Regions from separate parts of the Homo sapiens genome. Here all the other regions are linked to region 1. The links come from fine-mapping of genetic effects on gene expression. A gene starts in region 1. Each other region holds a variant in brackets. All regions are shown on one strand. Distances are between the middles of the regions. Region 1 holds the start of CTNNAL1 (catenin alpha like 1). Region 2 overlaps LOC105376214 (a long non-coding RNA gene). Region 3 overlaps TMEM245 (transmembrane protein 245). Region 4 overlaps FRRS1L (ferric chelate reductase 1 like).

The links. PIP is the estimated chance that this variant, and not a neighbour inherited with it, causes the effect.
Region 2: its variant is fine-mapped to the expression of CTNNAL1 in gastroesophageal junction (GTEx, PIP 0.94).
Region 3: its variant is fine-mapped to the expression of CTNNAL1 in whole blood (TOPMed, PIP above 0.99).
Region 4: its variant is fine-mapped to the expression of CTNNAL1 in lymphoblastoid cells (TwinsUK, PIP 0.95).

Annotation. Positions count from the first base shown.
Region 1 is chr9:109,008,814-109,016,959 of GRCh38, reverse strand. It overlaps CTNNAL1 (catenin alpha like 1), which reads left to right and starts at 3,461. Exons shown (of 19, transcript NM_003798.4): 1 at 3,461-3,658. The coding sequence starts at 3,518. TMEM245 (transmembrane protein 245) reads left to right here. Exons shown (of 18, transcript NM_032012.4): 18 at 1-1,825. RefSeq lists a silencer at 3,219-4,108 and an enhancer at 3,770-4,273.
Region 2 is chr9:108,115,211-108,123,356 of GRCh38, reverse strand. All of the region lies in intron 4 of LOC105376214 (a long non-coding RNA gene), which reads left to right. Among named protein-coding and RNA genes, the nearest start is that of KLF4, 630 kb to the right of the region's middle. The variant A/G (reference allele first, on the strand shown) is at 4,229.
Region 3 is chr9:109,064,859-109,073,004 of GRCh38, reverse strand. The region is part of intron 9 of TMEM245 (transmembrane protein 245); the gene reads left to right. Among named protein-coding and RNA genes, the nearest start is that of MIR32, 23 kb to the right of the region's middle. The variant C/T (reference allele first, on the strand shown) is at 3,685.
Region 4 is chr9:109,145,568-109,153,567 of GRCh38, reverse strand. FRRS1L (ferric chelate reductase 1 like) reads left to right here. Exons shown (of 5, transcript NM_014334.4): 2 at 3,848-3,932; 3 at 6,379-6,517. Among named protein-coding and RNA genes, the nearest start is that of FRRS1L, 18 kb to the left of the region's middle. The variant C/T (reference allele first, on the strand shown) is at 3,396.

The DNA.
Region 1 (8,146 bases):
GGTTTATAGGAAAAAAAAACAAAATACAAAAACCCTTAGGACTTCTCATACTCTAGCCCTGACCTTGCAGTCTCCTCTGAGGGGCCTCCTAAGACCCTTAAAATAATATTACAATAGGACTTTGAGTGTGCATTTCACAGTGGAAATAGCCTCTGGCTAGCATTACTTCCAAATGCTAGTTCCAGCTAAAAACAAGTACTTTTTATTAGTTTCTTGTCTTTCAACATTCTGCCATCAAAATATATTCATTTTATTAACTTACCGATTATTGGGAACCTGCAAAAAAAAAAAAAAAAAAAAACACACATGCTGTCTGCAGCCACTGTTTGGTTATTTTTGATAGTTTAAGAGAATTATAAATCAAGTTGTTCTGTCTACTAGAGTCAGAAATTCTGTGCTAGAATGGGACTTCTAAAATTAGGTGGTCCTGTCACTTTCTAGAGAAAGACCCAAATTCATAGGTTTAAGTGGCTTGTCTGACATACACATACAGCCAGTTAGTAACAGAATTCAGAATAGAATAGAGTTCTTTTTTTTCTGTCAGTCCGTTGTTCTACTTCTCTTTCCTTTTCTTCATGGTTGAGCAGCTTTTGGCAAAATGTGTTCCATATAGCAGTAGTTCCAAGAGATGTTAATAGATGTAAGAAAAAAAGTGTGTGTGTGTTGGGGGTGGGGGATTGCATGGTCAATTAAAATGAAGGAATGCTGAGTTTGTTTCCTTACTGTAGGACTTCTAAGAGTTTTGAACATGCTATTACACATTGTGAATTTATAAAAGGGGACAAACACTGTTTGACCTTAGACTGCACTCCCCTTCTTTATTCCTCAGAGCATCTCAAAGGACTACAGGGTCCTTTGAGAAACATGGCCCTTGATCAAGTTTACAACTCTTTGAGAAGACATCCCTAATGGAAATACTGAATGGCAGATCTATTACTGTGGTACCATGTAGTGTGTAATAAATCTTGAAGTCCAGAAAGCAAGTATATTTGCTGTTTAGAGCTATACTTAAGGTATAGAGATTCTTTTCCACCTGTGGTGTGTAAAATCAGTATTGTGTTTAATTTTGCAGGTTTTTCAAGGATCAACTAATGTGCAAATACAGTGGTGATATATTGATATTACATTTTAATAATGCTTTTGTATGGCACTTTATAGTTTTCAGACACCTTTTGTAACAGCCCTGTGAGACAGACAATATTATCCTTATTGTACAGATGGGGGGGCTCTGGAGGCTCTGAAAAGTTTTTGGTGATATTCCCCTAAGTTTATACCACAAAATGATGGAGCCAGAATTTAGTTGCAGAACTTCTGACTCCAAGTCCAGAGTTCTTTACTAGACATCTGGTTTCTTACTAGCTTTTTGCTAGCTTTTTATTTTACAGTGAAAAGTATGGAAGCAAATCCTGATAATTTTGGCTTATTATCAAATATCATTTATTTTTTATTGCAGAGACCCAGCAGATGTAACTCTCATTGTAGCCATCCCAAAGAAAACCCTTCTTTGCCCTTTGCAGTGCCACTTATTTAGGTAACTGAAGTGTATTTCCAGTACAATTTGATTTTGAACTAAGATTTGATATAGAGTTGTAATTGCTTACATAACTCTTTGAAAATGTATCATCCCTGGGTTCTCAGGTGAAGGAGGCAATTCAAAAGTAAAAAAGAATATTCGAATACAATAAATACCCTCTGTTCTCACACAAATGCTGTTTCTTAGCTAACTTGCTTTGACAACCTACTGATGTAACTTCTTTATTAATGTGAAATATTTATATTTTGAAATAAAATTACTAGTGTTGAATGAATCATGTGGTAAACTTAATCTCCTGTGTGTTGAAAAACTTGATCTTTTGTGAAGCCAAAGTTTCATGAATCCATCCGTCTCTTAGGCCTTCTGTTATGCCATTTCCTCCGGCACCATTGTGTACACTGAATTCTTAGGAGATACTGTCAACTTCGTAAGGGAAGGTGTGTCCAGGAAGTGGACACTGGGCGCCTTAAAGAGGTCAAGGGCCCTCAGTGCACAGGGGAAGGTGGCCTTGTGATAGGTAAGGAAGTGGTGAGATGGTTGGCTGAGAAGAATTGGAAGAAAAAGTTGGATTGAGGACCTGTCCTTTTTGAATGAAGAAAAAGAAGCTGAAGCTTGGCTATCTTCAATACCAAAGACAGCTGTGCAGCACTGGTAGATTGATGAAGCTGAAGCTACAGGTTGAAGCACTGTGAAGCGCCTTTCAACGGTGCTTGGGAAAGAGCTTTCTTATGCCTCAGGTTGATGTACCCAGCTCATCAATCTGGTGTTATGGAAGAAGAAATGATCCAGGCCAAGGTGTCCGGGTGGACTGGCCAGCCTCAGATTCTTTTTTACTCTGACAGGTTCTCACTGGCAGATATGGTAGTTGACAAAACATTTTTTCATGCTTCTCAGTCTGTTGCTTAAGTCTGGAATTCCTTCACGGCGTGCATACTGCTGACAACCTCCTTTTGGCCTTGCTCCTGGAGACCTTAGAATAGGAGTCTTCAGCTCCCCGCCCCCATCGTGGGGCTCTGTGCGAGCTCAGAGTTGTGCTTACAGAACTGATTCTTACCCTTCCCCTCAAGTGAGTTGTCAGAAATACACACTTGGTGTTTTCATGCAATGAACAGTTATGAAGAAACTGCTCTGTGCCTGGCACTAGGAAAAAACTTCGAAAAATAGTTTTAAGAAGTAGTGTTGAACAGTAGATGAGGCTTTTTCATGTTTCTTTTAAATTTCTTTTGAATAAGTCTAAACAGTAGTGTGAAAGATATACTGACTTCCTGCCGAATACCCAGATACTCCATTAATGATTGCATTATCAAATGTTTCCCCTTCAATCCAGCTCAAAGTGTTTGTGAGAAATACATGGTGAAAGAATGAGCAGGGTGGAGTGGAAATTGGACCTTCCGGAGAAGCCCCAGGAAGACATTACCACTGGAATTCCCGTCCCAGGGGAAAGGCCCCTCCCAACAGACTTGATTCTGGTTTTGGTCTACCAGTTTCAACCCCAGCACAGCTTCCAGAAGTCTTTGCGGGAATTCAGAGCTGATTTAGGACGAGTCACCTATCGAGAGGACGGGAAGCTTTGCTGGGGACGCTTGTCTGTCCAAGTAAGAGGAGGCCATGTGGCTGTGTGACAGATGTGTTTTGTTTCTCCTCGCCACCCTGGCGAGAAGGTGCCTGGAACCCATGGAAGGGGTCTGAGAAGAGATAAGGGCGGGGCCATGTGGGGGCGGGACCCGGCTTAGGGGGTGGGGTTGCAGGGAGCCCACACCAGGCTGGACTGCGCGGGCGGGGCAGAGGCCGGGGGTGGGCGGGGACATACGGTGACGGGCGTCGGGGACGCAGGGTTGGCGGCGGAGCCCTGGGGGGGCGGGCCCCTGGGGGCGGGGTCTCGGTTGGCGCGAGTGTCCTGTCGCCGCCGCCTCGGGCGGGTGGGCTGACTGGCGGCAGGCTCGCCGCGGCGCGGAGTCCCGGCTGCGGGATAGACCGAGGGCCATGGCCGCCTCTCCCGGACCCGCCGGCGTTGGCGGCGCCGGAGCAGTCTACGGCTCCGGCTCTTCGGGCTTCGCCCTCGACTCGGGACTGGAGATCAAAACTCGCTCGGTGGAGCAGACGCTACTCCCGCTGGTTTCTCAGGTAAAGTGGCGCCTGGCGCGGCCCCTCTTCTCCTTCCCGCCGCGGCCCGCGATGGCGGCCGCCGCTCGCACGACCGGACGGGAGGCAGCCGCTGCCCCACTTTCCGCGCCGGCACTGCGGCGTTCTTGTCGGACCGCCTGTGTGGGGCTCCGGGACGGGCCTCGGCCCGGGCGGCGAGAGACTGGATAATCCAAACTCCGGCGGCAGGGTTGAGTGGACTCGGCAGCAGGGGAGGCTGCGGGGCGGGGGTGCCGGCCTGGGCCTTTGCCCCCAGTACCTGCCTCGGGTCTGCGGCTCCCGGGTGCCCCCGGCCGGGCGATGCCCCCTCCGCGGGGCGAGTGGTTGAGCCCAGCTCCCGAGGCAGAGAGGACCCCCGCGGGGCCCCTCGCTGGTACTTAGGGCCCTCCACGATAACCGACTTTGTCACCAGTTCGCAGCCTGGTCCCGAGCCCGGCTCCTCCGCCTGGGGTATTCCTCCCGGCCTCCCCGCCCAGCGTGCGCTCCCTGATCCTTTGTCCCTCCCCGCCGTAGGTCAGTTCGCTGGCCTCCCATTCATCCCGGCCACCCTACCCCTTCCCCTGAACCTGCTGCTGCTCACTTCTGCCCGCTTCTGTCCGGCCTCGTGGAAGAGTGACGTGGAGACTGTATGACAGTTAATCCAGATGCACACCGTTTTGCCAAGTCCCGTTTGGGATGTGTGCGTTACTGTATTTGCCAATCAGCTAACCGACGCCCTGAGTTTTAGGAAAGTTTTTGTTTCTCTGAGCTGGGTTATATGCAGCTTCAGGGCTAGAATTCCTCACTTAGGTCTGTGGTAAGATGCCAAGCACTGTGGGGAGTGAATTCTGTGCCTTCGGGAGCGCGTTGGCGATGTGTGACTCACATCTAGGTTGTAACCACTTCGTGACTCATACTAGGATTACCAAGATTTTAGAGGTAGAAGAAATCTTAAAGATTATCTGACTAAAAATTCTTTCTTTAGCATCCTTGACACCTGGCCACCAGTACCCTGCTTAAACATGTTCAGTGAAGGGGAGCCTGTAGCTGTTGCATAGAATTCTAAATGCTATTATCTCTTCTCCTGCCCAGCCCTGCGCATATTTGAAAACAGCAGTTACACATGTCCCTGGATTCCTGTTATGCTGGTTAAATAAACATCCCTATTTTCTTCACCTTCGCATGGCTAACGGAGCAGTGATGAATATATCTGACACTCTCCTTCCCTTTTCCTGTGTCTCATTGAGGCTCTGACCAGTGGGAAGGGGCACTGGGATCCCTCAGTAATGTCAGACCCTCCGCTCCTCGCCTATCTCCACTAGCACAACACAACCAAAACGAGAAACACTGGAGCAGTTTTAAGAGGCAGAGAGATAAGAGAGTGATGGAGTTCAAGTTGATAGTATTTTATCCATTTTTTAAATAACACCTATGTAATGCTTACTATGTGGTAGGCCAGGTTCTAAGCACTTTGTAAATATTAACTCATTAATTCTCATAACAATCATGTGAAGTTGGTATATATTCTCGTGGTATGGGAGAGGAAACTGAGGAATACTGAGGTTAAATAATTTGTTGTTAGGGCTTTCAATAAGTGCCAAACTGGGATTTGAATCCAGGTACCCTGGCTCCAGAAGGTTCTCTTTGCTACACTATGCTGTGTCCTCTCTAGAGATTAGAAGCAGTAATGAGATCTAGAGAAAAAGATGGTACATAGTGGAAAAACAAGCTAGAAAGTCATAATCTGGAGAAATGGCAACTTTTCACAGTATCCACTGCTAAAAATGTATCAGTCTTACAGCTCTGCATTGTGTAACTCTGGGGTAAAAGAAGCCAGAGAAGGGTAGGAGAGCAGAGGAAGAAAAGTATAAATCACTGCTGAGAGTTAGAGGTCAATGCCAAAGGGGAAGAATGCCTGCCTTTTTTTTTTTTTCTTTTTCCAGTTAAAGCCTTGTTCAGGGTCACAGCTGAGGTTTTGCATCCCACACATTGTGTATCTACAGCTACATCTCTACCACAACACCATAACTGATATTCCTCATAATTGACTGTCCTTAACAAGAAAAAGTTAAAATCAAGAAGTGTATTAAGCATGGCCAGAATACTCGGTTAACAAAGCAGGGAAGTACAATTTAGAATGATTTTAAAGTTTCAGTGTTAGGAGATTAAAACAGCAGTTCTCCAGAAAACTCATATGTCCACAAGTCTCATTTTCTGAGAATGCTGTATTATTACCCAACTCATGTTTCACCATCTCATCCACAAGGATATTTTAAGCATTTTAAGCAAGGATTTATTGTGTGCTTATTTGTTGCTGTTTTTTGAGGGGCTTATATTCTAGTTGGTAGATAGGTCATGTATAGAACAGCACATGCAAAGTGTCAAATGAACATCATCAATGGTACATACTCTAAAAGCTCAGAGAAGGCATGGATGAGTCAGCAGTGATGTCATGGAGGAGGCAGGGTTTTGAGGTAAACAAGTAGGACTGGCACTATACGGTTTAAAGTAGACAGTTTCTATTCTGGTATCATCTAGCTTCTTCTGACTCTCCAAGTGAAAAGTCCTGGGTTACTGGCCTTATTCTAAGAATGCAAGATTTTATCAATATTAGAAAAATGTGTATAGTTTTTTTTGCATTCACAGATTATAAAAGATGTATTTTCCTAACAATGATGCAGAAAAAGCATTCAACTAAATTCAGCTTCTAATAATGATAAGAAGCACTTAGGGAACTAGTGTTAGGAAAAAGTGTCCTTAACCTGATAGAGTATCTACAGAAAACTTTTACTTAACATCATAGCAACAGTCAAATTTAAAATAAACATTTCCTTTAAAGCCAGAAACCAGAGTGGGGTGCCTGCTATGCTTCTACTCAGCACTGCACTGGAAATTCTAGCCAGTGTAATATGACAAGGAGAAGAAATAAAAGGAATAAATATAGGAAAGGAAAAACCAAAAGTCTCAGTGTGATATAATAACCTATGCAGAAAACTCAAAACAGTCTACAAGTAAATTATAAAAATTAGGAGTGTTGGCAAGTTCACTGAGTGTAGGATACTAAAATCAATTGCATTTTTCTACATTGATAACAAACAAGGCACAGGCGCACTGGCTGGTGCCTGTAATCCCAGCTACTCTAGTCTCAGCTATTCAGGAGGCTAAAAAATGGGAGGATGGCTTGAGCCCAGCAGCTGAGGGCTGCAGTTAGCTGTGATCACGCCACTGTGCTCCAGCCTGGCCAACAAGGACCCTGTCTTTAAAAAATAATAAAAAAAAATAGAAAAAGTAATTATTAAAAAAATCCAGTTATATTAACAGTAACAGCAAAATATGAGCTTCCTAAGAATATGTTGCTTTTGCTATGTATATAAAGAGAAAGAGCTCTATCTCTATGTATACACAGCAAAAGTGGTCAAACTTCATGGAGAAAATTTAAAAATTTTATCAAAAGCCAACATGGATCTAAATAAATGGGAGAAAAGTACTGTGTTCAAGCCTAGGTTGACATATTATAGACATATCAGTTATCCCTATTGGTCAATTTAATGCAATTTCCATGAAAATTTCAGCAAGATTTTTCAGTAGAACTTGATAAAAGTAATTCTGAAGTTTATATGAAAGCACAAAGGGCCAAGATTAGGCAGAAGAGAAACAAGGTGGATGGACTTGCTCTGCCAGATTTCAAGACTCATTATAAAACTATAGTAATTAAGACAATGTGGGTATCAGAACAGGGTTGAAAAACATAGACCTGTGATACAGAATAGAAAACCCTAGAACAGATCCACACATATATGGAAACTCGGTAAATGACAATTGGCATTGCTGGTCAGTGGGGAAAGGAAGAACTTAAAAAAAATTAAGCTGGGACAATTGGATATCTAAATAGAAATTATGAAATTGGATCTCTGTCTCATACCAGTAAAAAGTCAACTTCAGATGGATTAAAGACAATATGAAAGTAAAAGCTCACAACACTTTTAGAAAAAAAAAAATAGGGCAGTATCTTCATTACCTTATGCTGGGAAAGGATTTGTTAGTATACCACAAGTATAAACCTTAAGAAAAAAATGGATAAATTCGACTTCTTTAAAATGAAGAACCTAGGCCAGGCGCAGTGGCTCACACCTGTAGTCCCAGCTCTTTGGGAGGCTGAGGTAGGTAGATCATTTGAGTCCAGGATTTTGAGACCAGCCTGGGCAACATGGTGAAACCCCGTCTCTACAAAAAATACAAAAAATTAGTCGGGTGTGATGGCATGCACCTGTGGTCCCAGGTACTCTAGAGGCTGAGGTGGGAGGATTGCTTGAGCTGGGGAGGTTAAGCCTGCTGTGAGCTGTGATCACAACACTTCACTCAGCCTGGGTGACAGAGTGACAGAATGAGACCCTGTCTCAAAAAAAAAAAAAAAAAAAAAAAAAAAAAGAACCTCTGTTCATCAAAAGGAAAACGTAAGTCATTAAGTGGGAGAATATGATTCCAACACAA
Region 2 (8,146 bases), 890 kb after region 1:
GGATAGGGCAGAAGGAGAGAAATCAGAGATGGACACTGGATGAAAAACATCAAGCCCCAGTCTAGGAGACCTGAAGATTTGTAGCACAAAGTATTTAGAAACATCTTACTTCGACCAAAGCAGTGCCCTGTGAAGTGTTCACTTTTAAATGAATCTCGTATTTCAACAGAAGCCAAATGATCCTTCACTCTGTTTTTGAAACTTCCAGCAGTCAGTCAGTTACACTCTGAAGTGAGGCCCAGTTGCAGATGCAAAGGCATCATTTCCACCCGGTATGGGGTAAACGCATCTGATAGCAATAACCTAAGCAAACACTTAGAATGACCCTGTATGGCAGACGCATGTGAATGTGTGTTCTGAGCTAGGGAATCTGGAAGTGGCCAACTCAAAGATGTATTCCTTGTCTATGAGAAACATCTGAGCTGCACCCCATCCTGTGGAACATGGGGCTGTAAGGGGATTGAGGCACTGAGTTTCGGATTAAGTAAAGGTTGCTAGATGGAGGTCATTATGGGGAGGGTGTTAAGTGAAAACGCTCTATAAACCGGATGATGTTTGCAGGTGATTGCAGTTTTTCTGCCCAGCCCACTGCCACTGGGCTATGCGGTTATCTTGTCCAACTCACACCACTGTGTTACAGGTAGAGGGTCTTGACTTAAGTTGTCCAGGTTCTTTGCATTTTGAGCAAAGAATTGGACAAAACGTGCAGCAAAGCAAGGAAAGAATGAGTCAATGAAAGACAGCAAGCAGGGATTTATTGAAAATGAAAGTACACTCCACAGTGTGTGAGCGGGCCAAGCAGCAGCAGCTCAAGGGCCCGGATGCAGAATCTTCTCAGGTCCAAATACTCCCTAGAGATTTCCCATTGGCCACCTCATGCTCACCTCATGTAAATGAAGTGGTGGCCTGCAATCAGTCTGATTGGTTGCAGAAAGCAACCAGCCAGAGGATGAAGTGGAATTACAAAGGTCACACTCCTGTGCAAACATCTGATTGGTTGATTTTTGCAATCAGAGGCTAAGGTGAAGTTACAAAGTTGTACTTCTATGCAAAGGAAGACTCAGTCCACAATAAGTCAGCTTGGTTGTGCAAGCCAATTTCCCATCTGCCACACAGAAAAGGTGGGGGATTTGCAAAGGGAGTAGCCTCTGGTCTTTTAGTTACTTGGGAGTGAAAAGTTAGAGTTTTCTTTTCAATTTAGTTCTAGGAAGTTGGCGTGAAATGGCCTTAGGTTCCCTGCCTCCAGACCCTATTCCTCTGCCTCAACTGGACTCTCTCCCCTGTATGTAAACCCATAATGAAACCCCATGTCTTGTTTGCTGGCTCTGGGTTTCTTCTTGGTCCTCTTGAACCTGGTGTCTTCCCTGCTGAGGTTATTAGAAGTTTGGAGACAACACCCAGTTGCAGTTTTACATCCCTAACTCTCATCACAGAGCACCCTAAAGGGTCTCAGAAAGGAGCCCAACACAGGGCTCTGGAGGTGAGTCATGGGAGGTCTTAGAACTTTCCATTCCAAAGGTTTCCTCTCCCAGTTTTCTTTCTCTCGGCACTAAAATTACGTTTCGATGTAAGACTATCTAGTGTACATTGCCCTTGGTTCCATCTTTGTGTTTTTTGGTGGTTTTGTTTGTTGTGAATTTATCTTTTAATTTTTATTGAACATATACTTTGGCCAAATTCCATGTCAAATACTTTATATGAATTATTATTAATCATTAGAATTCATTTCATCCAATGAAATAGTTCCATTGTATTATTATCCCCAGCTTACAGAAGAGGAAACTGAGGTTTAGAGAAATGATTTTACTTGTCCAAATTAAATCATAAGGATTGGAAACTGAAGTTGTCCCCAGATAGCGTGACACAGGAGCCCACGTTTTAAAGCCATGCACTGTATTCTGTCTCAGGGACTATTTCTCACCTACACAATTACAAATTTCCCCTGGCTGGTCTTCTTGACCCTAGTCCAGTCTCCAACACTCCATCCTTCATAGCAACCTCCAGTGTAACTTTTTAAAAACTTGACTTAGCGCTATTTAAATGTATGCTGACATAAAAGTAGCTATACACTCCTTACACTTGTAGCTCTCTTAAAACTATTAAACTCAAACATAAAAATGACACAATTCAAGTGGACAAACTAGATTTATTCAGTTAGATATGCTGAAAATGAATTATTCAGTTGAGGTTTCACAACAAATTTCAGATAGGTATATTTCACTTGATGATGACTTGAACTTCAGGATCCAAAGTGTTTCTTCTTTTTTTTTTTTTTTTTCCAGACAGGGTCTCACTCTGTTGCCCAGGCTGAAGTGCGGTGCCACAATCTTTGCTCATTGCACCCTCAACCTCCTGAGCTCAAGCAATCTTCCCACCTCAGCCTCCCAGGTACCTGGGACTACAGATGTGCACCACGACACCTGGCTAATTTTTGTATTTTTCGTAGAGATGAGGTTTCGCCTTGTTGTCCAGGCTGGTCTCGTACTCCTGGGCTCAAGCAATCCTCCCACCTTGGCCTCACAAGGTGCTAGGATTACAGACTTGGGCCACCATACCCAGCCCCAGAGTGATTGTTTCTAATTCAGATCTGACCACCATCTCCCTGACCATCAAGATCTGGACTCTGACTCCTGTTCAGTCCCATGTGTCAGCCCCTGTGCACTTCTTTGCACTTGACATTCTCATCACAACACAAGATGGAGAGTTCCCACAGCAGGCTTTTGGGTGCACGCTGCTGCTTCTGTTCTGACTGTCCACTATCTTCACCTATGGGACGAGCTGCTTAAAAACCTTGCCAAAGTGCCACTTGCTCTGAGAAGCCCTTCCAGGTTCTCCCTTGGACAAACTGTCAGCCCATGAACAAACTGGGTACCTTGTATGCATCTCTAGTATACTCATCCTGTACTATAATTGGCTTGGGATGCATATCTTTCTAAGTGAATGTCTCATAATCAGGGACAATGTGACAACCATGATCATTTTTGTCCCTCTATTACAGATTCAGAGAGAAAAAGCAATTTGTGCAAAGTCACACATAGCTGCGTCTCTAGGTGCCTTAGTGTGGTGAGGGGTTCCAACAGCAGGATTGCTATTCAGAGATCTTACCTGACTGTTTCCCTCCATGAACTGTGGTTCTGAATGATGTTGGGTTTCTTTCATTGTTTCTTTGGTGACTGAGCACTTGAAGAGGGAGTCAAAAGTCTTGGGTTCTTGCCTTGTCGTTGGTAGCTTTATGTGGGACCTTGAATTAGTCTCGCCCTCTCTCTGGGCCTCAGTTTTCTCATCTGTCAAGTGAGGGTGTTGGGCCAGATGGCACTGAGCCTCCTTTGATTTAGTGCCCTGCATACGTGTAGCTCACATGTCCCGGGTGACCTTGTCACGTCAGCAGCCCGGGCTTTGCCAAAAGAGCTGACTGAGCCAGGCTGTGTAAAGGGGCAGGGAAAAGAATGGCTCCTTCACATAGGCCCTTTACACGGGGCGAGTGTTATCGCCAGAGGAAATTGACTCAAGGAGATAGCACCTTAGTATCAGAGCAAGCCAGGCTATCAGTGGGCAGCCCCCACAATCCCAACCCTCCTTGCCAAGGGTGCCTCAGGCTGGGTGGCCTTCCTGACACACAGCAAATACGGTGCCAGGCCTAAGACAGAACACTGTGGGAAAGTGCAGTATAGAGTCAGGCCCTGGGGCCTGGGGGGACTCGGGCAGGCCTGGGCAGCTCTCTGTGGCCCTCATGGCATCCAGGCAGCCAGATCTCAGGCTCTGTCATTTCTACATTTACTGTGATGGAGAGAGACAGTATTTCCCTCGAGAAAGACTCTGCTGTTCTCATGGTGCTCCATCCCATGTAGGTCTTACCTAGACCCCTGTCCTTCTACCCTGTGCTCTCCATAGCTGAACCAGGGAATACCCAACACTGGTTCCATTCTGCCTGCCATTTTCCAGACTTAGGGAGCATTGGGCAGAAAGCATTTAAGCAGCTTCAGCTCATTTCTCAGGAGCTGTGTCAAGTTTCTCCAGCTTTTCTTGCCATCTTTGCTGGGCCAACTTCACCTTAAGCTTCAAACCTTAGCCATGGGTCACCTGCCCCAGGAGGCCTTCGTTGACTGCCCATGGTCTAGGTTGGGCACTGAGCCTGGGGTTGTCTTCTACTTTGGCATTGTCACTATTTCCTGGGTTCTAAGCAGTTAGAGAAAAAAGGAAATCATTTTTTCCCCTCACTCATCCATAC[A/G]TTAGTTAAGCAAATATTCTTGAGTGTTCACTCCCTGGGAGACACAAAATACATTGATTTAAAAAAACAAATAAACAGCCAAAAGTGTTCCTCGATGTCACGGTACATGCAGTCTAGTAAGGGAGTTAATAAAATCATAATCTAATACATGAAAAAAAAATTGAAACTTACAGGTGTTAAGAACAGCAACTACACAGCACACTGACTAGCAGGAGAATTTAATATAGTCAAGGAGGTGGGCAGAGAAGTGCTGACGGAGGTGAGGAATAGTAGGAGTGATAGACAAAAGGAGTCAGGAAGATCATTCATGTCTCATTGATCTGTGTCCCCAGCCTATCACAAGGACTAGGATGAGGTAATTACTCAATAAATGCCAATAAATATGGAAGCCACATTTTCTGCAAAGTTGGCTCTAAGGCCAGGGTCCAGTACCTGCCTTGGTCCATTTGCCCTGTCTCTGTCTCAGGGAATGTTTTCATTCCACTGTCATCCTAAGAAATGTCCCTGTCTCGCCCATACAACTCCTTCTCAGATCCAGTCTTTTAAGTAGCCTTGACCTGGAGGCTGTAGCCATACCATCTGCTGCAAACCTTCATATGTCCTCTCTCAGTGAGGGTCTCCAAAAATCATGCACCTCTGCTTCCTTTCCCCAAATAACCCATGTGGATTTCTACCTGTTCTGGTCTTTTATGCCCATGGACACAGTTTGCCTAAACTACCTGACCTTCTCTATTGCCGTAACTCCAGCTATTGCAAGTTTCAGCTTGCTGATTTGGCTCTTTTGAGCATGTTCTCTGCTTCTCCAAGTGCCTCCCTGTCTCCCAGGGACAGGATTAGTTCTGGGATCCAGACATCCTTGATTAATGCAGCAGACCAGCCATGCCCAACACCCTCCTGAGACACTACCCAAATTTTCTTAATGTTGGATTCATCACAGCCAAGAACACATTTGGTTAATCAACTCTCTTTTTCCCAACTGGAGCCACTGTGATAAAGATTGAAAATGTGCCCCCATTGTAAGTGGCTACTGTTTCCAATTACATATGCTTCTCCCAGCCACCATGCAATCTGTTCACTTCATGCTGGTTTGCAAGAGCTGTTCGCACCAAACCATTGACAGCCACTATCTAAACTGAAACCATCTGCTTAGCCATTTGCCATGCATGGCTGGGTCTTGCAGGCTTACCCAGTTGAGGCCCCGTGGAGCAGTCCATTAAACAAGCATGAATTAACGCAGCCTGTTTTTATTAAATGTCTTGCAACTGATGGGAAGATGGACAAGCCTGTCTGGCAAGGATAATGGCCAATCCTCACAGCATCTGAAGTCTTGGATAAATTCCAGCAGCACCCCGCACCTCAAGACCATTCATTGAGTGTTTCAGGAGTGTGGTCGTGCTTAGAAACAATTTATCTGTAAAAGGCTTTTTAAAAGATTTTATGGTTTCTCCTCTTTCTTGTGAAAAAAAAAAAAAAAAAAAACAACAAAACCAGCCATAACTTATACTCCTTCTGTTTGTTTGATATTATTACTTAGATGGAAACTCAGGGAGAAGCAAATAAGAGTGACTAAGAACTTTAGTAGAGTGCCAATATTTACTGTTGCAGTTATCAAATCCAGAAGATGGGGTGGTAGACTTTTTTCTTACTGATACGGGTGGCCTGCACAAGCATCAGGTCTGGCATATTCAGTAAACTTCAATAGGTTTTCATGCATTTTGTCTAAATACCTTGGCCAATGTAGTGAGGCCCTAGGAGACAGGATATTTTGACCCACTCACACTAGAGTCTGTACGGCTGGAACTTTTTCTGAGCATTGGAGAACACGTCAGTGATCAAACCCAACAGCACCCCCAATAATTAAGAAAATTCAGCAAACTCTGCCAACTCGGATTCTAGAGTCATCAAGCAACTTTCTTACACTTTGACTTCCTAGATAGAAGAACTACCTGTGAGAAGAGACAGGGCTCTTGAGCATATACAAGCATCCATTTCACTTGATATTCTATTTCACGCTGTAAAGTAATACAGTGGCATAATATAGTGGCATTCAAGGTTTCTATTATTTTTTTTTTTGAGATGGAGTTTCGAGCCCAGGCTGGAGTGCAATGGCGTGATCTCAGCTCACCGCAACCTCTGCCTCCCGGGTTCAAGCGATTCTCCTGCCTCAGCCTCCCGAGTAGCTGGGATCACAGGCATATGCCACCATGCCTGGCTAATTTTATATTTTTAGTAGAGACGGGTTTTCTCTGTGTTGGTCAGGCTGGTCTCGAACTCCCGACCTCAGGTGATCCACCTGCCTCACCCTCCCAAAGTACTGGGATTATAGGTGTGAGCCACCACGCCCGGTCATCAAGGTTTCTATTATTTTTTAAATAGTTTAAAATGAAAGAAGTGAATTCATGAGAAAGAGTTCAAGCAAAGAATGGTACACCCTCCTCCTCTGCTGAGGATATTCGGAATAGTCAACATCCATCAAGCAATTACAGTGGACTCTGACTACAAACAAATGGGTCAGCCATGCTGGCATGGTCAGGTTGAATATTTGTGCTGTCTCTCCTATGGTCTACTTTTATTCACTCAAAATTAGATGAATGAAAACCTTTTAACTTCGGTCACATTCCTTACCTTCATTGATCTGCTCTTTAAGAGCACATACTGAGATGTTTGCAAACACTGTTATCAGTATCAGTTGTAGGAAATTCGCTTTGGTATTTGCTGTTAAGACTACAATTAGTCTGTGATACACTGATTCATTCATCCAGCAATCAATTGTTGAGCTTCTAACTAGTCATATCCCTGCGCTCTAGGAATCTAAAAATGAAGAATAGTGTGGTCCCTCCCCAGAAAGCTCACACTCCAAAGGAGAGGGTCTTGGTCCTTTGTGTTTTTCAATGTTCTTTATGTCAAGTCCTAAATCAGGTGTTACTTTAAAAATACAGCCCCAAGGAAAAAGGAAAAGAAAAACCCAACAAAGTAGAAGTACAATAATCCCCCCAAACACTTTTATCTTCTTTAATCAACTTTTAGAGCTTTTGCTGCTCTGAGAATAAGTGCTATAGAATTTTATACTCCTACTTTTGCCACTGCTGGAAAACTCAGAGCCCAGTATGATCCTCCACCATGTCAAGGAGAATTATATTATCCTATGAAGCGCCCAATCTTTCCCTTTTTCTCATTTTTTGGTTCTGCTTTACTGTTTATTTTTTAGTGAATTTCCATATGCCTGGCCCTTACTGTAAACAGACTCAAATCCTTTTTGGATAGAGCCTAAAGTTTTATATGTATATATCACTTTATATATATATTTATTTATTTATAATATATATAACAATATATAATTTATATATTATATATAACTTTATATATAATACATATTATATAACTTAATATATAATATATATTATATATAAAGTTATATATAATAGTTATGTATATTACATATAACTATATATAAATTTATATGTATTTATATTTATATTTATATAAATATATTTATAAAAAATATACATAACTATTATATATAAACATATATATATGTTTTAATAAAACATGATTCGGTTTATGGCTATGTCTTCTGTTTGGACCAGGAAAAAGGAATTCCAATGCTCATATTATGGAGAAGTTGTAGCCCTCTTTGCTCATCTATGCCTTCTTCTCCGACCTCCTCCCTTTCTCTTTTCATACTGTTTGATGAGCTCTTGAGGTTGTTGATTGGAGAATACCAATATACTGAAAGGGTCATCTGGCCTGTTTCTAGGAATAAAAATTATGGTTATGGTTTATTGGACCTAATCATACACAGAGACAGTGATGCTCATTCTAATAAATAAATCAGAACTGGAGGTGCCTTAAGAACAAACAATTTTTCTGACTTTTGTTTCTTATTCATTTCTATCTGCAGGATCCAGCATAGAGCAT
Region 3 (8,146 bases), 56 kb before region 1:
CAAGATCAAAGGTTAAGGAACTTGAGATAATAATTCCGCAGTGGCAGAGTCATTTATAACCACTGCTTCTGATCAACTGAAGGAAAGTTTCCACTATAACATGGAAACTGTAACTCCTCAACTTTCTATATAATTTTTAAATTTATGTTATTTATTTATTTTTAAGAAATGAGGTCTCACCATGTTGTCCAGGCTGATCTTGAACTCCTGGGCTCAAGCAGTTCTCCTGCTTTAGCCTCTGGAGTAGCTGAGACTACAGGTGTACACCACCATGCCCAGTTTTATAATTATTGACATATTCCCATATTGTATTATTTTTGAGGAAGGATAGGTGAACTATGGCCCAGGGCCAAATTCAGCCACCTCCTTTTGTGTTGGGGACCAGCCTCAACACCACCCGTAGGGTACCTGAAGTTCGGTGGCGACAAAGGAATGAGAAGAGACAGGTACAGGTTAAGAGTTCATGAAGGTGGGAGTCGGGGCCAGTTGCATAATGGAGGCTGCAAAAGGCGCTGAGCTCTGGTCTCCACACTGTTTATTGAGTGTAATCACTTAGATCTAAAAAGCAGATGTTCAGGGTGAAAACACTGAAAGGGAGGCAGTACATCATAGGTGTAATCTATAGCAATAGCGGTTTAAATCAATCTCCTTTGTGCTCAAACAGCATATCTTTAACTTGTTGGAGAGTAGCTAGTGGGAGCGGGCTTAACTAGGAGCCTGCACATCTGTCCACATTCCAGTGTTTCAAGGGAGTGTCTTTCTCCTTGAACACAGTGTTTACAGATAAGAGAGCAGGTCTTGCTCTGAGTATGGGAACATGATGGCAATTCGGAGACTTTTCTACTCAGAGGCCTCTCATGGCTTTCCACAACTTATTGTCCCATATTTTTGTGGCCAGTTTATACAGGCACCCCACAAGCCCTTTTCCCAACACTTTGGTAAATGAAGTTTTAGTGGAACATACCTATGTCTACTCATTGACATATTTTCTCTGGCTGTTTTGGGGCTTCAAGGACAAACAGAATTGAGTAGCTGTGGCAGAGATTATATGTTCTGCAGAGCCTAAAATACTTACTCTCTAGTCCTTTACAGAAAAATTTGCCAACTTCTGTTTTATAGGATCTCTGTGTAATTTGGCTTCTGGAAGAAGGGTTTTCAGTTTTTGTGGGGGATGTTCAGCAGAGCTGTGTTATCCACCTAACAACTTGATGACACATTGTATGACCTGCCTTTTATTAACCTCAAGACAGTCATAAGTCAGGAAATATTCTGCCAGTTTTAGGCTTATAAGTTGAGATTTAAGTTGATTTTTTTCCTTTGCCTCTACTTTATTCTTTTATATAAAACCTGCCTAGGACATTACTTGAACTTGATTTAGAATAAAATTTTTTTTTTTTTTTTGAGACAGGGTCTTGCTCTGTCACCCAGGCTAGATTAAAGTGGCACAATCATGTCTCACTGAAGGCTTGATCTCCTGGGCTCAATCATTCCTCCCACTTTAGTCTCCTGAGTAGCTGGGACTACAGGCATGAGCCACTATACTCGGCTAATTTTTATATTTTTTGTAGGAGTTTCACCATGTTGCCTAGGCTGGTCTTGAACACCTGGGCTCAAGTGATCTTCCCTCCTCAGCCTCCCGAAGTGCTGGGATTACAGGCATGAGCCACTGTGCCTGGCCTATTTGAATCTTCATAAAAGAAGTATATTTCTTTTGAAATATAAATTGTGGTATATTTATGCAGTGGAATATTATACAGCATTAAAAAAAATGGACTAATGATACATGTACCAACATGGATGACTCTCAAAATAAGTATGTTGGCCAGGTGCGGTGGGTGGCTCACGCCTGTAATCCCAGCACTTTGGGAGGCCGAGGCGGGAGGATCACCTGAGGTCAGGAGTTTGAGACCAGCCTGGCCAATATGGTGAAACCCCATCTCTACTAAAAATACAAAAATGAACTGGGTGTGTGGCACACACCTGTAATCCCAGGTACTTGGGAGGCTGAGGCACATGAATCGCTTGAACTCGGGAGACGGAGGTTGCAGTGAGCCAAGATTGCACCACTGCACTCCGGCCTGGATGATAGGGTAAGACTATGTCTCAAAAAAACAACAATAAAAAAGTAAGTTGAGTGAAAAAATTCAGACAAAAAGCCCAAATGGTACGATTTCATTTATTTAAAGTTCTAGGAAATGCAGACTAATCTGTAGTGACAGTAAGATTAATGGTTGCCTGTGGATTGGGGTGGAGCTCTAGGGAGGACATACATATAGGTGCAAGGAAATTTTTAGGAGTGATAGATATGTTTATTATTTTGATTAAGGATATAAGTAGAGAAGTAGAATCATCATATTTCATTCTAGAACAGGCTTTTCAGCTGCTTTGTGGAGAAAAGATTGAAGGTATACAAGATGTAAACCTTTGAGACAAATTAAAAGCTTCTAGAGTAAACCAGATGAGAAGTGACAAAGCCCTGAACTGTAGACAGTTTCAGTGGAGGTGAACAGGAGGGACAGATTTATAAGGTCTTAAGGGGGTTAGTTGGTGATTAATTGGATATAGGAGGAAGAAATCTAGCATGACTTATGTTTCTAGCTTTGGAAATTAGTGAGTGATGGTGGATTCACCAAGACAGGAAATAGAAGAGCAGATTTGGTAGGGAAACTAATTCCCCTGTTTACCTGTTGAGTTTGAGGTGACTGTTGTAAGTAGAGGCATCCAGTAGGCTGTTGACTATGTAGGTATGCGGTTCAGGAGAGATGGGGTGAAGTTAAAAAATGGGCAGTTGCTGTGTAAGTCCAGGAATCAGATGAGAGGTCTGGGTTGGATCTTGAGTTTTGAGAAGCATCAGCATAAAGAATGTATGTAAGGTACAGAGAGGATGTCTGGAGGTGCGCCCTGTGGATATCTTAAGCCTTTAAGGGTGAGCAAAAAACAATAGGTTCACAAAGGAAAATGAGAATGGGCTATGAGAAAGGTAAGAGGAAAACCAAGGAAAGAGAACGTTTTGAGACAGTAGTAGTGGTCAGCAATGTCAAATTGCTGCAGAAATTTTCTAAGAGTGAAATTGGGTTTAGCAGCTGCAAGAGCAGTTCATTTAATTGGTGTAGCAGAAGCCCATTAGATTGCAGTGTGATGAGAAATTATTGGGAACGAGGAACTAGAGAAAGCAGGTATAGACTGCTCTTTCCCAAGTTTGCCTATGGAACGTAGCTGGGAAGGAGGTATAGAGCAGTTTTGTTTAATTTTTTAAGATGGAGAAGCCTTGTTTGTATGCTCCAGGGAAAGAACTGGTAGAGTGGAAGGGGTTGTAAATATTAGGAGAGAGATAATTCTTAGTGCATTTCTCTGAGGATGAAGCATGAGATGAATCCATGGCACGAATGGAACAGCTGGGGAAAGCAGGTCAGAATGGATATGGATATAAATACTGTGAGTTCAGTGGAGCGGGGAAGGCGGGAAATTAGGGGCCATACATCTTTGAAGTAAGAAGTGAGGTCTTCTGTCCTCTGGCTCTTTGGATATAATACATTTTAAAAGGAGAATGGGAAAAAGGAGGAACCAACATGTATCAGGTATGGGATTTTAGGAAGGAGCCACCTGGGATCTAGGCAAGTGGATAGAGCCTTTCATAGGATGATAGACCTTCCAAATGTTGTCCTCTAGGGCTCAGCCTCAGCC[C/T]TCACATCCAGAGGGCTCCTTTTCTTTGGGTCATTCTTCTGTACTGGAAGTCAATGCAGAGCCCTTTTGTACCGGTTTTGAATAGTAGCAGCATTCTCTCTGCAACTGTATCAAAGGCACACAATCTGAGCAGCCCCAGATCAGGTAGTAGAAGAAAGGTTTGTCTTTTGTTTGAAATTTTGAAGTAATAATTATAGATTCACAGGGAGTTGCAAAGACATATACAGGGAAGACCCATATACTCTTCACCCCATCCCCTCCAGTGTTGTCATCTTGCATAACTATAGTACAATAAAACCAGGAAATTGGCATTGCTATAATACACTGACCTTCAGATTTCATCCTCTATGTAGCTTCATGTCAGCTATCAACACACTCAGTACATAACTGTTACATTGCAGGCTTCCTCATGCCACCCCTTAACAGCCACACCCATCCTCTACCCTTTCCTTCAATATTTCCCTAACTCTTAGCAACCACTGATCAGTTCTCCATAGCTATAAAATCATTTTGAGAATAATACGTAAATCCAGTCATGGAGCATGCAGCCTTTTGAGATTGGCTTTTTGTTGCTTAGCATAATTCTCTTGAAGCTCATCCAAGATGTTGTAGGTATCAAGTTTGTTCTTTTTTATTGCCAATTAATGTTCCATTTAGGAAGGTTTTTGTTTTTGTTTTTGTTTTGACACAGAGTCTCACTCTAACCCAGGCTGGAGTGCAGTGGTGTGATCTTGGCTCAGTGCAACCTTCACCTCCTGGGTTCAAGCGATTCCTGTGCCTCCCAAGTAGCCGGAATTACAGTCATGTACGCACTACCATGCCTGGCTAAGTTTTTTGTTTTTAGTAAGAGAGGGTTTTACCATGTTGGCCAGGCTGGTCTTTGAACTCCTGACCTCAAGTGATCCACCCGCTTTGGCCTCCCAAAAGGAAGGCCTTTTTTTTTTTTTTTTTGAGATGGTGTCTTGCTCTGTCGCCCAGGCTGGAGTGCAGTGGCGCGATCTTGGCTCAATGCAAGCTCCGTCTCCCAGGTGCACGCCATTCTCCTGCCTCAGCCTCCCGAGTAGCTGGGACTACAGGCACCTGCCACCACGCCCGGCTAATTTTTTTTTGTATTTTTAGTAGAGATAGGGTTTCACCGTGTTAGCCAGGATGGTCTCGATCTCCTGATGTCATGATCCACCTGCCTCGGCCTACCAAAGTGCTGGGATTACAGACTTGAGTGACCGCGTCCGGCCAAGGAAGGCTTTTTGAAGTTGCTTAGACTTTGGTGATTCATAGAAGGTCTGATTCTTTTTCAGCAGATAGGTGGGGATGGGATTGGAAATAGTAGGGGTCGGCATGAAATAATGATAATGGTTTCCTGCATCTCTCAGTACTCAGTGGATTCTGTCAGCAGGAGGGCAGTTGACCTTGTAGGGGATTCATGTAGATACTCCTAGTGGAGAAGATACAGTTAAGAATAAGTCCAGATGTCCTTTCTTCCAACTTGGTGTGGTTTTATATGGCCCATGTAGTCCCTTGACTTCTGCTGGATGTGCCTCGTAAGCTGGTGGGTAAATTAGACAGATTAGGATCATCTTAGTGGAGCTCTAAAGAAAATAATGATGTTATACATACTGATTCTTGTCTTCGGCAGTTGTTAGTCGGGAGCTCATTTTCTGCTTTCTCCTGACTTGTCTCAAGCCTGTTGATTCCTGTGCCTCAGGACCCTCATTAGGAGATGGCACTGAAATGGTTCTCAGTTGCACTTATCCCTTCGCTTACTTGGGAGAAACCCAGTAGGCTAAACTAAGTTGTTTTTAATCAGGGTTGTTCTCTTGGTAGGTAGTAGGTGATAGAGATTAACCTTTACCCAGGAAGGTGAAGGCAGACCAGTCTAAACTGTAGGGCATTGGTTTCTGCTGAGGGATCCCTCTTGAGTGAGTAGGGGAGTTAGTGATAGGCTGAGGCAGTGAATCTCCAAGGAAGGAGCTCAGTTCAGGGGCTGTAGAGGTGTAAGGCCGGAGTACAGCCCAGCTAAGGCAGCTCCTGTGTTTCTGGCCCCATGTCTCTTGAGGGAGGCTGGGACTGAGCCAGTACCTCTACCTTGTCCCCAAAACAGCTCCTCTCATTTGTTGCTCTTAGGAAACCTGTGTGAGTACATTGGGAAAGTGTTTTCATAGTGGCCAATAAGACGTTTTCCCAGGCCCAATAGACATTTGTGAATCATTAAGGATCTGTCCAGATACCTCTATGAATCTTCACACTTTTTTTTTTTTTTTTTTGAGATGGAGTCTTGCCCTTGCCGCCCAGGCTGGAATGCAATGGCATGATCTCGGCTCACTGCAACCTCTGCCTCCTGGGTTCAAGCAATTGTCCTTCCTCAGCCTCCCAAGTAGCTGGGACTACAGGCGCACACCAACACACCTGGCTAATTTTTTCATTTTTAGTAGAGACGGGGTTTCACCATGTTGGCCAGGCTGGTCACAAACTACTGACCTCAGGTGATCCACCCGCCTCGGCCTCTCAAAGTGCTGGGATTACAGGCGTGAGCCACCATGCCCTGCCCATCTTCACACTTTTGAATAACACTACAGGAGAGTGTTATCATTATAATATATAATATCAATATAATACCAATATATCAATATAATATCAATTATAAGTTACCATATAATTGAAAATATTTAGCAGTCCCTTCAAGCCACTGATGAATGTATAAAAGAGTAATTTAAAAGCTACTTAATTTCTCCCGAATCACATTTCAGTTTAGTGACCCAGATTTCCTGTTTATATGCTTATACTGTAAATTATTATATTTGTGTCTCTAAACGTTTGAAATTTTGTCTTACTTGCTGAGAAATTTTTTTTTTTTTTTTTTTTTTTTTTGAGACAGTCTTGCTCTTTTGCCCAGGCTGGAGGGTAGTGGTATGATCTTGGCTCATTGCAACGTCTGCCTCCTGGGCTCAAGTGATTCCTGTGCCTCAGGCTCCTGAGTAGCTGGGACTACAGTTTTGTGCAACCATGCCCAGCTAATTTTTGTATTTTTTAGTAGAGACGGGGTTTTGCCTTGTTGGCCAGGCTGGTCTTGAACTCTTGGCCTCAAGTAATCTGCCTGCCTTGGCCTCCCAAAGTGCTGGGATTACAGGCATGAGCCAGCGTGCTGGCCTTGCTGAGAAATGTTTGAGTGGACTGAGGCATTTGCCAAGAAGTTTCACAGATACTTTATTTGGAGTGTGGGACAAACTGGTTAATACTTAAGATTCAACCCACTACTGGTTTAATAGTCTACTTTTTAATTTATTCAAAAGATCTCTTATTTTTTTCTGGTTAAAGACCACTTTCCTAGGCACCATGACTTTGTGGCTGTCAGTGGCAACTGACTTTCTCTTTATGACCATCTTTCTCATACACAGCACATAAAGTTGCTGTGAGTTGAGGATGTTGCACATTTGACTTTACCTAATTGACCCTTTTGTGTTAGGTTTGTAGGATGTGTCATTTTGGGGCCTCAGGAAAGTAAATGACTAGCTTCTGCTTGCCTTCACCTTTTGGCTTCACTCTGGAATAGTTGAAATGAGGACTGTTAAATTTGTGAATGTCAACATCTCCAGCGTATATTATTAAGAGGAACAATTTAGATAATACGTGAACATATTTTCTCTTGTGGAAAACATTAGGATTGTGTAAAGGATTCTTGATTAAGGTGTATGGTACAGCCTGCTTAGTCAACAGAAGAATGAGGAGGCCACCTCTCACTGCACAACAAGTAAAGCTGTGGGCTATAGTTCCTTGCATAGTTGGAACTTTGCTCAGGAATTCTATCTTTAAAAGATCTTCAGTAGATAACCAACTTGAGGATAATGATTCACCTTCTTCATTTCCTGCATTCTTTCTGATTTCTTCACTTCCTTAGATTAGTGATTCTCAAACTGTAGCATGCCATCAGTATCACCTGCAGGGTTTGTTAAGGTACAGATTGCTGGGCCCTAGTCGTGTTCCTTTTTCAGTAGATCTAGGTTTGGGCCCCCAATTTTTCATTTCTAACAGGTTTCCAAAAAGTTCTGATGCTGCTGGTTTGTGGACCACACTTTGAGAACCCTGTCCCAGATGTTGAATATCCCAGTCTCCCAGAACCATTTTCTTTGGTGCTGAATAAGGCAGGTGACTCAGGACATGTGAACAGAGAAACCAGGCAGAGTAGAATGAAAGGGAGGTTGTGGGGAAAGTGGGTCTAAAAGCTAAGGAAACATTGAGGCCTGGTGCCATGGCTCATGCCTGTAATCCCAGAACTTTGGGAGGCTGAGGCAGGTGGATCACTTGAGATCAGGAGTTTGAGACCAGTCTGACTAACATGGTGAAACCCTATCTCTACTAAAATACAAAATTAGCCAGGCGTGGTGACGTGCCTATGATCTCAGCTACTTGGGAGGCTGAGGCAGGAGAATCACTTGAACCCAGGAGGTGGAAGTCGCAGGGTTGC
Region 4 (8,000 bases), 140 kb before region 1:
AAGTGCTATTTTTACTATGACAGTTTTATTATAAAGGATACAACTCAGGAACAGTCAATGAAAAGACACATAGGGTGAGGTCTGAGAGGCTCCCAAAGGCAGAGTTTCCATGCCTTCTCCTCGTGGGATTATCACATTGCCCTCCCAGCACATCGATGTGTTCAACCAGGAAGCTGCACTGGGCCGCAGTGTCCAGAGTTTTTATTGGGGTCTCACTATGTTGGAATGATTGATTTAATCATTTGGCCACATGGTTAAACTCAATCTCCAGCCCCACAACCCTCCCTATAGGTAGGTCTAGCACAAAGCCCCAACCTTCTAATTACATGGTTTTTCCAGTGACCAGCCTCTATTCTTAGTCATCCCGTTGCTCAGCATAAACTCAGGTGTAATCCAAGGGGCTCATGAAGAACAAAAACACTCCCATTACTTGGGAAATTCCAAGGTTTTAGAGTTTGTCTCCCAGAAACCAGGGACAAAGGCCAAATTCTTTATTTTTCAACAGTTTGCAATATAAGAGGAAAATGTTATTAAAGGCATGTCCAAGTGCATTTGACAGAACACAAGTTCCTATTACAAGTTTTAGAAGCATATATGATAATAGAAAATTAGTGCTAGAAAAGTCCTGAGAAGCCATTTGCCAACATGAATAAACTAGTTCAGAACATTTATGAGCTAGCTTTGTTCCAAAATTTGCTTTCATTTGGAGTTTAGAAACCTGTTGTTCTTTTTTTTTTTTTTTTTTTTTTTTTTTTTTTTTTTTTGAGATGGAGTCTCTCTCTGTCACCCAGGCTGGAGTGCAGTGGTGCGATCTTGGCTCACTGCACGCTCCACCTCCCGGGTTCATGCCATTCTCCTGCCTCAGCCTCCTGAGTAGCTGGGACTACAGGTGCCCACCACCACGCCCAGCTAATTTTTTGTATTTTTTAGTAGAGACGGGTTTCACTGTGTTAGCCAGGATGGTCTCGATCTCCTGACCTCATGATCTGCCCACCTTGGCCTCCCAAAGTGCTGGGATTACAGGTGTGAGCCACCATGCCCAGCTGAAACTTGTTGTTCTTAAAGAGACAATCGTACCCAATGGTTATTACTTCTCAGGCCAGTTTACAAAATTTAATAGGGCCAGGCGCAGTGGCTCATGCCTGTAATCCCAGCACTTTGGGAGGCTGAGGCAGGCGGATCACGAGGTCAGCAGTTCGAGACCAGCCTGACCAACATGGTGAAACCCCGTCTCTACAAAAAATACAAAAATTAGCCGGGCGTGGTCGTGGGTGCCTGTAATCCCAGCTACTCAGGAGGCTGAGGCAGGAGAATTGCTTGAACCCAAGAGGCAGAGGTTACAGTGAGCTGAGATTATGCCACTTCACTCCAGCCTGGGCAACAGAGCAAGGCTCTGTCTCAAAAAAAAAATAGTGATAATAATCCAGTAGTAATAGTAACTGGTATTTATTGAGCTGGAAATCTGCTGTATGCTAACGTATTATTCTAGATGCCAGGAAGTAGTGAGGATGATATGTTTGAAAATGGAAGAAGATGGGGAACCTGAGTCAGATGCAACATTAAAAGAGATTGTCTTTGTCAGTGAACTCTAGAATTTCAAAAACATGTAAGTGAACAATCATTGAATTCCTGGATAAATATTCTGAGACAAATGGCCTCAGGACTGTAGTGAGAAGTAACAGGAAGAAGATATATGAAGCTGCTTAACATACAGTAGTTTGTAGTGGCTCAATAACTATTCAGAAAAAAACAAAACTCGTTCAAGTCAGGACTCAGTCTATAGCAGTGAACCCCAGCCTTTTTGATACCAAGGACTGGTTTAGTGGAAGACGATTTTTCCATGGACTGGGTCAAGGGGAAGGTTTTTGGGTGATTCAAGTACATTACATTTATTGTGCACTTTATTTCTATTATTATGACATTGTAATATATAATGAAATAATTATACAACTCACCATAATGTAGAATCAGTGGGAGCCCTGAGCTTGTTTTCCTGCAACTAGAAGGTCTCATTTGGGGGTGATGGGAGACAGTGGCAGATCATCAGGCATTAGATTCTCATAAGGAGCGTACAACCTACATCCTTCACATATGCAGTTCACAATAGGGACTGCACTCCTATGAGAATCTAATGCCACTGCTGATCTAAGAGGAGGTGGAGCTCAGGCAGTTATGCAAGCCATGGGGAGTGGCTATAAATACAGGTGAAGCTTCGCTTGCTTGCCTGCCACTCACCTCCTGCTGTGCGGCTTAGTTCCTAACAGGCCATGGACTGGTACTGGTTAGTGGCCCAGGGATTGGGGATCCCTGGTCTCTAGTACTGAAGCAGATATAGGACTTAGCATAAAATAAGCATAAAACTAGAAAAAGTAATGCATTTGATCCAACTACTTTGGTGGTAAAAAGTTAGGATTGTACTTTATGATGTGATCAAGGTCCAGGATAGTAAAAATGGACTATTCAGAGTGCACAGAAGTGTGCCAGAAAAGTGTGACCTGGTGGCTTTTTTAAAGTATAATAAATCTAATGGACAAAATTAGCAAAGCCTCACTTTAAAAAAAGTAGCATTACAAATCCCAAAGAAAAAACTTAAAAATAACAAGAAAAAAACTCATAAAATAGAATGATTTTTAAAAGTTTGTACTGATTTACATTTCCTAATGTCTGTGGGTGATTTTATTTATTCCTTTGACAATCATTTATTCAGTGTCCAGTGCCAAGCACTATGCTGGGCAGAGAATACAAGATAAGTCTCACATGATTCCTGTGTACGTGGAGTAAACAGCCTAGGAGAAAAGATTTCTCTCACAAAGTGGAGGCATAATGCAGCCTTACCCTTCAATGTATGGTTTGATGCATTATGGTGGTAAGTAATCTTATAAGAAAGATAGACAACTGTTAGAAATTATGTGTTTAAAGAATTTAGCGACAAGTTGGGTATGGTATGGTTTGATGCATTATGGTGTATGGTTTGATGCATTATGGTGGTAAGTAATCTTATAAGAAAGATAGACAACTGTTAGAAATTATGTGTTTAAAGAATTTAGCGACAAGTTGGGTGCGGTGGCTTATACCTGTAACCCTAGCACTTTGGGAGGCTGAGGACTGTGGATCACTTGAGGTCAGGAATTCGAGACCAGCCTAGGCAATATGGTGAAACCCTGTCTCTACTAAAAATACAAAAATTAGCCGGGTTTGATGGCCGGCGCCTGTAATCCCAGCTACTCGGGAGGCTGAGACAAGAGAATCCCTTGAACCTAGGAGACAGGTTGCAGTGAGCCAGGATGGCACCACTGCACTCCAACCTGGGCAACAGAGGGAGACTCTGTCTCAAAAACAACAAAAAACAAAAACAAAGAATTTAGTGACCTAAGAAAATGTTACCTACAGGTTAA[C/T]GCAAAATGGAAGTTGAAAATGGAATGGAAAAATCCTGTTATCAAGTATATAAATGGAAAAATCCCACTATCAAGTATATAAATGTATCACTGTTAACTTTTTTCTCTTAGAACATGTATATTGTATTAAACGTGTGATTCTCAAACTCCCAGGGGACAGCGGTAAGCCCGTGGTTATATGAAATTGTGCCTCTCTCAGTGCCCCAGGTTCCTCTCCTGTAAAGTGAGAAAAGGACACACCTACTCTCAGTTCACATGCAAGATTAGGTCCAAAGGTGTGTGTCCTACACCCTCCCCCATGAAGGGGATGATTAGCCTTCATCAAAGCCATTTTCTGAGTCCCCAAACATTTCTCGATATGTGTGAGAAAAAACAGTCAACACATTTTTAAAAATTCTCATTGGAACAGTTGTTACTGGATTTTCTAACCCTTCTTTATTCTCACTGCCCAGGTTACCCCTTCCCTACTGCTCCTCCTGTGGATCCATTTGCCAAAATCAAAGTGGACGACTGTGGAAAAACTAAGGGATGCTTTAGGTTGGTGGAACTGCAGGTTGGATAACTTTAAGGCTAAGACTGATTTACTTCTCAGGGTAGTATTTAAATTGCATGCAGTTCCTTCTAATCAGGGGGCCTGAGCTCCTTGATCACCTCAGCAGGGTTATGAAGTTTCGTAACGGCCATCCCGCTTTTCAGTCTTAAAGGCCTTTTAACTTTAGTATGTCCTGGGCCCGGGACCATTCTTCCATGGTTCTTTTCTAGCTGTACCACCATTGCTCCAGGTGTCTCCTACTCACCAATTGCTGATATGCAGAAGACTCATGTGACACAGAACGTGTCTGTGCTTATTCAGCAGGGGCTGTGGGCAGGACAGGCAATGATAGACATGTTTAGTACCCAATTCCTTTTTTAGTAAATAGTCCTGACCTATGGATATCTGTATGATTCTAACTAGTCATTAAGCATTCATTGTTGCTAGCTTGTTATCTCAGGCATGGTGAGTCTCTACATGATTATTAGTAGTATCACGACATGACGGGCTGGGCTAGAAAACAGTCATGTGGACAATGGGCCTCCCATCTAGACAGCTCAGCTTCTTTGGGAAAGCCTCCTCCTTTGAACCCTTTACTTCCTAAAACAAATTGCCCCTGAATAATTTGATGGTCAGGGGCAAAGTTTTGATGGTCACTGTACTGAAGGTTCTGATTTTGCTGTTGTTCAGTACTTAAGGTCTAAGAAGGAAAAATTGAATACAGGGGCTTTGAGCTTTCTTTGGATTACAAGGCCACTTCTAAGGAATGAATAAAAATAGCCAAAAATGTTCTTATTGAGGAAGATGGTCAGCAATGTATAAACCTGGTGATTGGGGGATATTTTGAGAAGGGAGGGAATTTTAGTACTCTACTGGCTTCAAAGTGACTTGTTTTCTTGTCCATTTACTCCTTTTTTTAACTTCCCTTGCTCCTTTTCATCTTTTTCACCCCAGTGCCCTGTTGCCTTGATCCTATTATATCTCTTCCTGACTGCTCGGGTATTTCTGCCAGCATAGTAGTACATTTCTGTCCCCTCCTCAACACTTAGCACCCCTGTGCCCTGTTCCTTTAGATACCTTCCATCTGCGCGTATATTGTCCCACCCATTGCTTCAACTTTCTACCATTCTGCAAATGGTGTAATACAGTGTTCCTCAAACCAGGGCTTGCCAGTTCTGAAAGGATCCACAAGTGCTCTGTAAGAAAATTTAAATTTGTGTTTTCATTTCAGTGGTGCTCTCAAAAAAACATGAATGTCTGCATAATCTCACTATCTGGATAATCACCTTATATTGTTGTATGTTTTAGTGTCTGAATTTGTAATTATATTAGCAGCAAGTAGCCCAACAGAACAAAGGCAAATTTTATAAATAAGGCCAAGCACAGTGGCTTGACTGTAATCCCAGCACTTTGGGAGGCTGAGGTGGGTGGATCACCTGAGGTCAGGAGTTCAAGATCAGCCTGGCCAACAAGGTGAAATCCCGTCTCTACTAAAAATACAAAAATTAGCCAGGTGTGGTGACCCATGCCTGTAGTCCCAACTACTTGGGAGGCTGAGGCAGGAGAACTGCTTGAACCCAAGAGGTGGAGGTTGCAGTGAGCCAAGATCCCGCCATTGCACTCCAGCCTGGGCAACAGAGTGAGACTGTCTCAAAAAAAAAAAAAGAAAAAAAAATTGTAAATAAATATTGCATTCATTCATGGTTCATGAGTACCAGATGGGGGTATTCATTTGGTGTATCGCATAAATAAGGATTTTGCAGCAGTTCAAACAGATAAAAGTGAAGAGTTGAGCCATCATGCTATAGAGAGTAGTAAGAACATGCTCTCAACTCCAAAGACCCTGCACGATCTAATCGGATACCACATGCACATAAGCAGAAATTTACTTTCAGTAAAGCCCCATTATCTGTTGCATGAGTGCTGTGAATTTCAATGTTCCTGGTTTATTAGTTTAATTTATATTGAATTTGTAAATTTGTGTTAGTTTGATTATATGAAAATTTGTAAGTTAAAAAGAGTTGGTATACATTTAATTAACAGAAACAATTTAAATGGTTAACTTGGAGAATCTTTTTCCATTAAAAGGGATTCAGAAATAATTCAGTAGTAACTAACATGTAAAAGACTCTAATACTAATATAATGTAGAGAACACTGGCTGGGAGTTTAGATACCCAGATTCAAGTCCTGTTGCAACCGCTGACTTCACTATACAACCTCGGGCAAGCCCCTTCCCATCTCAGGACTGCAGTTCTTGTGTACAAAGTGGGGCAGATCATCTCTAAGGTTCCTCCTAAGAGAGTGAAACTGTGTTTTTAAGATTCCAGGTAGCAAAAATCCAATGTGTTTAATAATATTGCTTAGCATCCCACATGATACATGGTAGATGCTCTCTTAATGTCTTTTGTGTAAGTAGAAGCAGTAAAGTCTCTTTCGATATCTCTTCTAGATATGGCAAACCAGGCTGTAATGCAGAGACCTGTGACTATTTCCTCAGCTACCGGATGATAGGGGCTGATGTAGAATTTGAGCTGAGTGCAGACACAGATGGTTGGGTAGCAGTTGGATTCTCTTCAGACAAGAAAATGGTAAGATGCAAAACATGATAGAAGCTGATTTTTTCTCTTTAGTTGGCTGTGCTATTTTGATTTTAGAAGCAAGTTAATTGATCAAAGCAGTATAATGATCAAATTAGTTATGGCTCTCTGATTGCAAGTTAAAAAAAATTCAGGCTAGCTTAAATGAAAGGGTTGGCTATCAGAATCCAAGCTGTCTTGTGGCACCTCTTTTCATCAGCTGTTTCCACAGTAAGGCTGCAAGAAGAGGCCCCCATGTTATAAGCCTTATATGGCTTATAACAATGAGCATTTATTGCTTGCTCACATGTTCATGGATTGACTGGGGTGCAGCTCATTTTAGGTGGGGTTCATCTGGACTTGACGCCTGTCCATGAGTTGGATTCAGGTTTTCTCTGTGTTTTCACTAGTCATCCAAGGCATATTTTTTTCATGGCAGAGGCAGAAGTGAAAGAACCACTTATAAGAGGGAAAAACAACTTTTTTCCGTCTCTACTCATATTCTCACTACAGAAAGAATACTTCTGTGACCAGATGTGTGGGGGTGTTCCCCCACACCCCAAGCATTTCTCCAGTGGACAGCTAGGTGTCCTCTAATTCACTTTGTTTCTGACACTACCTACCTGGAGATAGCATTAGATCCCACAGGTTAAGGGTTCAAAACCACAAGACTGCCCCCATTTCAGACACCCGTCACAAGCCCCAGGTTGTGACCTGTATTTCTGACCAGCCAGCTATAAATCTGGGGTGCCACCACCCTCTTCTGTTCAGTTAATCTCCTGGAGTGGCTCACAGAACTCAGAGAAACACTTTACTCATTTATTTATTTATTTATTTAATTTATTTGTTTGTTTGTTTGTTTGTTGAGATAGAGTTTCGCTCTTGTTGCCCAGGCTGGAGTGCAATGGTGTGACCTTGGCTCATTGCAGCCTGCACCTCCCAGGTTCAAGCGATTCTCCTGCCTCAGCATCCCAAGTAGCTGGGATTACGGGCACCTGCCACCACGCCCTGCTAATTTTTTGTATTTTTAGTAGAGACGAGGTTTCACCGTGTTGGCCAGGCTGTTCTCAAACTCCTGACCTCAGATGATCCACCCACCTCGACCTCTCAGAGTCCTGGGATTACAGGCATGAGCCACCGTATCCCACCTACTTTACTCATTTATTATGAAGGCTATTTTGAAGGATACAGATGAACAGTTAGATGGAAGAGACACTTAGGGGAAGGCATGGGGAAGGGAGTGAGGAGCTTCAACACCCTGTTGGGTGTGCTACCCTTCAGGCACCTCCATCTGTTCAGCAATCCAGAAGCTCATCCGAACCCTGTCCTTTTGGGTTTTTTTTATTTTTTAGACAGAGTCTCGCTCTGTTGCCCAGGCTGGAGTGCAATGGCATGATGTCGGCTCACTGCAACCTTTGCCTCCTGGGTTCAAGTTTGATTTTTCTGCCTCGGGCTCCCAACATAGCTGAGATTACAGGTGTAATCCCACCTGTAA